Regions from separate parts of the Homo sapiens genome. Here region 2 is linked to region 1. The links come from fine-mapping of genetic effects on gene expression. A gene starts in region 1. The other region holds a variant in brackets. All regions are shown on one strand. Distances are between the middles of the regions. Region 1 holds the start of C1orf54 (chromosome 1 open reading frame 54). Region 2 has its middle 3.5 kb from the start of CTSS.

What was found. PIP is the estimated chance that this variant, and not a neighbour inherited with it, causes the effect.
Region 2: its variant is the best candidate, but not a certain one, in a credible set for the expression of C1orf54 in hypothalamus (GTEx, PIP 0.68).

The regions. Positions count from the first base shown.
Region 1 is chr1:150,270,701-150,275,100 of GRCh38, forward strand. C1orf54 (chromosome 1 open reading frame 54) reads left to right here and starts at 2,090. Exons shown (of 6, transcript NM_024579.4): 1 at 2,090-2,163; 2 at 3,387-3,470. The coding sequence starts at 2,118. The region is part of intron 1 of LOC124904414; the gene reads right to left.
Region 2 is chr1:150,767,066-150,771,465 of GRCh38, forward strand. No RefSeq gene overlaps it. Among named protein-coding and RNA genes, the nearest start is that of CTSS, 3.5 kb to the left of the region's middle. RefSeq lists a silencer at 3,924-4,043. The variant G/T (reference allele first, on the strand shown) is at 2,054.

The DNA of each region.
Region 1 (4,400 bases):
GAGACTAAGAGGGTAGCTGGGCGCAGTGGCTCACGCCTGTAATCCCAGCACTTTGGGAGGTCGAGGCAGGCAGATCACGAGGTCAGGAGATCGAGACCATCCTGGCTAACACGATGAAACCCCGTTTCTACTAAAAATACAAAAAATTAGCCAGGCGTGGTGGCGGGCGCCTGTAGTCCCAGCTACTCAGGAGGCTGAGGCAGGAGAATGGCGTGAACCCAGGAGGCGGAGCTTGCAGTGAGCCGAGATCGTGCCACTGCACTCCAGCCTGGGCAACAGAGTGAGACTCCGTCTCAAAAAAAAAAAAAAAAAAATTAAGAGGGTAGCGTTATCATGACCTGTGTTCAAGACTCCAGTATGTCCTGCTTCTGAGCCCAGCAGGCAGAGTAAGGTGGATAGGAATGAGACAATTCTCATGTCTTTTTTTTTTGAGATGGAGTCTCACTCTGTTGCCTAGACTGGAGTACAGTGGTGCTATCTCGGCTCACTGCAACCTCTGCCTCCCAGGTTCAAGTGATTCTCCTGCTTCAGCCTCCCTAGTAGCTGGGATTACTGGCGCCTGCCACCAAGCCCAGCTAATTTTTGTATTTTTAGTAGAGACAAGGTTTCACCATGTTGGCCAGGCTGATCTCCTGACCTCAGGTGATCTGTCCGCCTAAGCCTCCCAAAGTACTGGGATTACAGGCGTGAGCCACTGTGGCCAGCTTCATCTCTCCATTGAGCTGTTACCACAGCATCTTCTGACCATTGACAGGAGGCTGTAAACCTATCTTGTTCATGGGTGTTTCCACAGACACTTGCATAGTGCCTGACTCATAGTAGATGTTGAGCAGATACTTATTAACTTCCCTTAAGAACAAAGCAAAACTGTCTTTTCTTATTCCCTTGCCTATAAGCTCTCAATTGCCTATCACACTAGGCCTAGCACACTGTGCCTAGCACGTATGTTGCTAAGGGTTTCTGAATTGAATGAACATGGGAAACATAAAAGCAGAGGAAAGGATAAAAACTCTACACCTGTAGGACGGAATGAAGGGAACATACCAAGTGACTGAATGTGGGAGGGAAGGTGTGGCACCTGTAGCAGGGAAAGAGACTATCTGCTTTCTCCCTTCTTCCAACCTGCATCCTGGAAGTTGAGAAAGAGATGAGGTGAGGCCGGGCACGGTGGCTCATGCCTGTAATCCCAGTACTTTGGGAGGCCAAGACAGGTGGATCATCTGAGGTCAGGAGTTCGAGACCAGCCTGGGCCAACATGGTGAAACCCCGTCTCTACTAAAAATACAAAACTTAGCTGGGCATGGTGGCACGCGCCTGTAGTCCCAGCTACCAGGGAGGCTGAGGCAGGAGAATCACTGGAACCCGGGAGGCAGAGGTTGCAGTGAGCCGAGATCGCGCCACTGCACTCCAACCTGGGTGACAAAGCAAGATTCTGTCTCAAAAAAAAAACAAAGAGGTGAGGTGAGGTCAGTGTTACCAGAAAGGAAATAACTGACCATGGCTGAGAGACTTTTAGCTGAAGCCATGCAGCAGGTGCTTTAAGTCAGACAATGATGGGTAAATATTGTTCCTATTCTCTATAGCTCCAGACAGACAGAAGAAAGGGATTCTTTTCAGTCTAGAAAAATGCTCACCCCTTCCTCAGAACATTTCCACTGTGACGAAAAGAGACTGATGAAGCCTCAGAGAGAAAGGCAACTCTGGGTGGTGATGGTAAGTCAGAGACAGTGAGAGGGAGGGTGAACTTTTTATGAGGCCTTGGAGGAAGGAAGGAAAGCCGGGAGAGGGGAAACTTCTTGGTAGGCTTATTTTTTATTTTTATTTTGGTAGTGACAGTGGGAGTCTTGAATGGATCTAATCTAGGGCAGGGGGAGCTTAAGAAACATGTTTGCATCAAAACCCCCTTTTGCCTCTCAATCTGGGCAGCTCTGGCTGGGGACCGGCAGTAACCGGAGATCTAGTCAGTCAGCCAGTAGGCGGGGAGTTCTGCCCCCTGGGAGGAGAAGAGTTGCTGCAGCTCCTTCCCTGCTTTGGAGGAGGAGGGGAGGCGGGGTAAGTTTGGTGGGAAACTCTGTAATTTCCTTTTTTACTTTCACAGCAATAGTGCAGAATCCAGAATGGATGTCCTCTTTGTAGCCATCTTTGCTGTGCCACTTATCCTGGGTAAGTCCACTCCTCTCTCTGAGCTTTTGTGCCAGGTCTTCTACCATAAATGGGGTGGGAGAAAAAAAATGAGGAGTGGGTGAGAGGTACATTTCAGTGGGGAGCGATAGAGTTTTCTCATCGTGCTGGGGTCCGGTGTTGAGGGCAGAATGGAGATCTGGAAGGCAGAGCCAGGAAAGGGGGAAAAAAGCAGAGTCCTGTCAAACAAGGAGGATGGAGCTCCAGACACAAGGAGGCCCTAGCAACACTGAGCTCAGTTCTCCATCACCACGGAAGTTGAACAAGATGACAGGGGCTAAAGTAAGGGTGAAGGAGGGATTATTGGAAGGTGTCACAGTCTGAAACTAGTAGTTAGGGTATCTCCTTTCCCAGAGAATTGGAGAAAAAAACCTGCTATTAGTAAAGACACAGAAGTGGGGTGACCTTTAGGGTAGTGGAAAACTGGCTGTCTTCAGGGACAGGGTCCCAAGAGTAGCTTGGCTCCTTCCCTCCTTTGTTCCCCAGTCTACCAGGTGTGTCTCATTGTTTCCTTTTCCTCTAGATTCTTGTGTCATTAGCTTGGAGTTGAAGGGAAAGCATTCAAGGAGCTCAGGGAAGTGTTTAGCAGGAGGCCTGGAGTTCTTGATCCAGTCATATCAAAGCCACATATTTTTAGTTCTGAAAGGGAAGAAAAACTAACAGAGATGGGTCATTTTAGTCCAGCTGACTCATTTTAAGAAAGCGGATGTTAAGTGGATTGTTCAGGGTTATTCTGTTAGCAGTGAAGGTGGAACTAAAGCTCAAATCCAAAGCCTAAGGGTGTATGTTAGTTATTTGTAAGAGATACTGATAAGAAAAGATGTCTCACAAATACAGTAAGATCTGGAGCATACTAAATAGAAGACTTGGCGTTTTTAATTCCTGGTCTCTACTTTTCCTACCTTTTTTAGGTCTGGTTCTCCCTTTGGGTTTATAGTATGTGAAGGGGACTGTTTTCTGTTTTAGGAGTTCCTGGATTGAAAGGGCACGGAGTAACAGGCCTCATTACAGATATGGATCCCAGAAGACTGAGAGGGGTGTAGAGGTGCACAGGCAAGAAAGGAGTATGACTATTGGAGGAGAGAGAGAGAGAGAGAAAAGAAAGAAAGAGCAAGAAAGCTGGGAGCGCTGAGGTCATCTCCAGGTGTCCTTTTGTTAGTAAGGTGTTCCAGATGTCCCTTGACCTCTAGTCCTTGTCCCCATAGGACAAGAATATGAGGATGAAGAAAGACTGGGAGAGGATGAATATTATCAGGTGGTCTATTATTATACAGTCACCCCCAGTTATGGTGAGTACATGAAAGGCTCTTGCCCTTAGCCAACTGGAGAGAGGCTTCAGGATATTTAGTTCTGAGACTTTGCTCTTCACTTTGAAGCAGAGCAATGGGGTCAGAGAAAAATCTGGCTATGAACAAAACCTATCAAGACTCATGATGGGGCCGGGCGTGGTGGCTCACACCTGTAATCCCAGCACTTTGGGAGGCTGAGGCGGGCGGATCACGAGGTCAGGAGATCGAGACCATCCTGGCTAACACAGTGAAACCCTGTCTCTACTAAAAATACAAAAAATTAGCCGGGTGTGGTGGCGGGTGCCTGCAGTCCCAGCTACTTGGGAGGCTGAGGCAGGAGAATGGCATGAACCCGGGAGGCAGAGGTTGCAGTGAGCTGAGATCGTGCCACTGCACTCCAGCCTGGGTGACAGAGCAAGACTCCATCTCAAAAAAAAAAAATGAAAAAAGATTTATGATGGGCTGGGCGCAGTGACTCATGCCTGTAATCCCAGCACTTTGGGAGGCTGAGGTGGGTGGATCACCTGCGGTCAGGAGTTTGAGACCAGCCTGGCCAACATGGTGAAACCCTGTCTCTACTAAAAATACAAAAATTAGCTGGGCATGGTGGCACCTGCCTGTAGTCCCAGTTATTCAGGAGGCTGAGGCAGGAGAATCGCTTGAACCTGGGAGGCAGAGGTTGTGGTGAACTGAGATCACACCACTGCACTCCAGCCTGGGCGACAGAATGAGACTACGTCACAAAAAAAAAAAAAGACTCATGATGATGTTATTTTTCCAGATAGTGATTTTTAGATGGGAGGATTGCTTGAGCCCAGGAGTTCAAGACCACCCTGGACATCATAGCAAGACCTTGTCTCTATAGAAAAAAAAATTTTTTTTTTTTGAGACCAAATCTCATGCTGTCACCCAGGCTAGAGTGCAGTGGCA
Region 2 (4,400 bases), 500 kb after region 1:
CCAAGGTGTATGTGTTTTAAAAATATATTCTGGCTTCTAATCTTTGACAGTTATATACCCTTAAAAACATCCTCCCTTAGTCTTCCACTTGTCTTTTATTTTATTTTTTCTTCCTTTGCATAAGCCTATGAAATTCCACTTGTCCTTTAGTCTTGTTTATAGTGAGTTTTTCTATATGAAATTTTTTTATGTTGAGGTAGAACATTTTATTCAGCTTTTCCGTATAATCAATCTATACTGTTTTTGTATAAGAAAATTTTCCTCATCCAAATGTAATAAAGATACACTCATCTTATTTTTATACTTTCAGAGAGTGTTTTATTTATCTTTTCTATGGCTACTGCTTTTAGGTGTTTAATTCACCTGGAATTTAGTTTTGTGTATGGTATGACGTAGGGAGCTTATTTTCTTTGTTTTCCAATTTTGATTCTACCTCTATTGTACACCAAATTCTCATACATAGATAGGTCAGTTTCTGAGCTCATGAAGCTGTTCTTTTTATCTTTTGCTACTTCAGTATCACACAGTTTTAATTAAAACAGCTTTGTAATATGTCTCCACGTATGGTAAGGCAAGTCATCTAGGCCACCCTATCTTTGTTCTTCTTTTTAAACATTGTCTTTGTATTTTGTACTTGTTAACTCTTCTTTATATGAATTTTTTGAATCAGTTTATCAAGTTCCCTGAAAAACTCTGTTGGAGTTTTTTGCTTTTTTCTTTTGGAGACAGGGTTTCATTCTGTCACCCAGGCTGGAGTGCAGTGATGCAATCATGGCTCACTGCAGCCTTGACCTCCTGGGCTCAAGTGATCCTCCCGCCTCAGCCTCTGGAGTGGCTGGGACTACAGGTGCACACCACCATGCCTGGCTGATTTTGTTTTTTGTTTTTTGTAGATAAGGGGTTTCACCATGTTGCCCAGGCTGGCCTCAAACTCCTGGGCTCAAGCAATCTGCCCACCTTGGCCTCCTGAAGTGCTGGGATTACAGGCATGAGCCCCCACATCTGGCTATTAGAGTTTTTATTTGAATATATGCATAAATTTAGGGAGAAGTAACATCATTATAATGTTGATTCATCTCAGCTGTAGTAGACATGTTTGTGTTTGTAGCCATACAGTTTTTTTTAAAAAGATACTGCTTATGGAAAATTTAAAACACATGTAAAAGTAAAAATAGTAGTAAAATGAGCTGCCGTGAAACCATTGTCTTGTTTCAACAATGATCAGTACATGGCCAATCTTATTTTATTTATATTCCCACTCTCACTACCTGAATTATATTAAATAAATTCTAGACATTCTGTCATTTCATACGTAAATGTCCCTGTGTGTGTCTTTAAAAGACAGAGACTATTAAACAAATATAATACCACAATACCATCATCACATCTAAAATAAATGAACAATAATTTTCTTTTTTTTTTTTTTCTGAGACAGAGTCTCACTCACTTGCCCAGGCTGGAGTGCAGTGGTGTGATCCCAGCTCACTGCAATCTCTGCCTGCCGAGTTCAAGCGATTCTCCTGCCTCAGCCTCCCAAGTGGCTGGGATTACAGGCATGTGCCATCACACCCAGCTAATTTTTGTATTTTTAGTAGAGATGGGGTTTCACCACATTGGCCAGGCTTGTCTCGAACTCCTGACCATAGGTAATCTGCCCACCTCAGCCTCCCTAAGTACTGGGTTTACAGGTGTGAGCCACTTTATTGTCATAAGAAATTAAGACAATAATTTCTTAATGTCATCAGACATCCTATCAATGTTCACATTTTCTGGACTGTCTTATACATTTTTTAATAGTTTGTTTGAATTGAGATTTAAATAAGCTCCATATATTGTGAAACCATTGAGTTATGTTTATATCATTATGAATTCATGGATTTAAACATATTTGATGTGTTTCAATCCATTCCAGTTTTATCCTTATTGATACTCATATTGTCTCATTTTTGGTCTGTAGGAATTTATTCAAACTGGCTCTTTGGTGCAGACAGAGTTTGTATATTTGGCATAATATTAGTACTCTTTAAAAGCTTCCTTTCTTTCTAATATGACA[G/T]GCTATTGCAGGTTTGTCTTGAACAATTCCTGCCCCAGACCTGGAATCAGCCATTTCTCCAAGGAGCTCTGGTTCCTTTTAGTGGAAACAATGTTTAAATACCATAATCTAGGAACTAGCAGTGTTTGGGATAGCAGATTGACCATTGTTGCTAAGCCTTTTCAGTAGCTAGAGCTAAGAAATATCTTTTTTAAAAAAATTAAATAAATCACAAGCTGACACTGATACTTCAAATTCAAATTCAAGACTATAGGGTTTACTCACCCCATCAATCTTATATCTGCACTTCTTTTCAAACATGCTTAAAAAATCTGGGTTCTCTAAAATATCAACTCAAGTACTTGTTTAATTTATCCTGTAAAATTGCAGAATAACAACAACAAGCCTACGCCAATAAGATTGTTAATGAAAACAAATTAGAGGTTTTAAAGTGGAGGGGGACAGGTTTTTCTCCATTAAGCCAAATGTCGCTAACGATGTAAGTCAATTACTGTGTTTTGAAGTCACCTGGAATAGTTCCCTGTATGGTTATGCTCCACCTCCATACACAGGTTTATTTGTTTCATTTCACTTCTTCCTTTTAGGGCTTGCTTTTTACACTTATGTAATTTCATTTTATAATTATGTAAAACATTTATGTGGATCCAAAGTGAAATCATCACAATGAGGTATATTCAAAGAACTCTAGCCTCTACTTTTGTCTGTTTTACACGATTTCCTTTTTTCCTTAATTGGTAATCATTTAAAAAATTTATGGTTTATCTTCCTATTTTTAGAAATATGCAAATATGCCTATATATTAATATTCTTTCATCTTAAGTGAACACTAACATATTACACATATTTTTCTCTATCTTGTTTTTTTCACTTAGCATTTTTTTTGTTTTAGTCAATCACTTAACATTTTATTAAGAAAAATTATTCAGGCGAAAGACATTAGCAGGTGTCCTTTCAGTGATGTGCTGGGTATTATTTAGTGGACCTTTACAGGAATTGTTTGATTCTTTTTAGAGTTAAGTTGTAAAAAACTGATAACTATGCAAATGATCCCTATACATGGCAATGCAAATAAATTTTGTATTGTAGATTTCACTGAATAGAGAAATAGAGAATGTAGATCTCTGTCAGTCGAATTCTTTTTTTTTTTTTTTTGAGACACGGCCTTACTTCATCGCCCACGCTGGAGTGCAGTGGTGCGATCTCAGCTCACTCTAACCTCCGCCTCCCGGATTTAAGCGATTCTCCTGCCTCAGCCTCCCCAGTAGCTGAGATTACAAATGCACACCACCACACCCAGCTAATTTTTGCATTTTTAGTAGATACAGGGTTTCACCGTGTTGGCCAGGCCGGTCTCGAACTCCTGACCTCAGGTGATCCACCCACCTCGGCTTCCCAGAGTGCTGGGATTACAGGCATGAGCCACCATGCCCGGCCTCAAATTCTTATTTGAACTGACTTTAATCTTACTGATCCCTTATTAATTAATGAGTTAAACTTCGATGCGTTCGTTGTATATTTGCTCTCAGCTTTTTAGAAACTATACTTTAGCAATTAAATTCTGATAACTCCACAGTAGTATATACAGTGTTCATTTATTTTTATGGCCACCTAGCATCTTTTGAACAATATTCCCATGTTTGGAGAATTTCCCACGTTATAAATTTTGCTTCTCCAAGTTGAAGCCAAAGCTCCATTTTCAAGGATCCAGTGCAGTTAAGGCACAGACATGAGACCTAGCCTTTGCCAGTCAGGCACACCTGTATAGAACATCATTTTGCAAGTGGGTAAGTGAGGAACCAGAAGTATGTAAAATCCTCCTTTTGGTGAGAATGGCAGTAGAGATGTCTCCCAGCAGCAGCAGCACCAGCAGGAGCAGGAGCAGCAGCAGATATTCTAATATCTGGTCCCCAGTGTCACCTGTTCAAACTGTAGTGTTTATGTCAAATATTGTGTCTGCTCAGTGGCATCATAGGTTGAGCAGTCCTCTCTGTGGTTTTGGTGATGTTTGTGGTTACACAATAAACAAACCTCACCGACTTTCTGGCCTTTCATAGGTTCTTTGAGTTTCCGGCACTTTTTTTTTTTTTTTTTGAGATGGAGTTTCACTCTTGTTGTCCAGGATGGAGTGCAATGGCATGATCTCGGCTCACTGCAACCTCCGCCTCCCGGGTTCAAGCGATTCTCCTGCCTCAGCCTCCCAAGTAGCTGGGATTACAGGCATGCGCCACCACGCCAGGCTAATTTTGTATTTTTAGTAGAGACAGGGTTTCGCCACGTTGGCCAGGCTGGTTTCAAACCCCTGACCTCAGATGATCCGCCCGCCTTGGCCTCCCAAAGTGCTGAGATT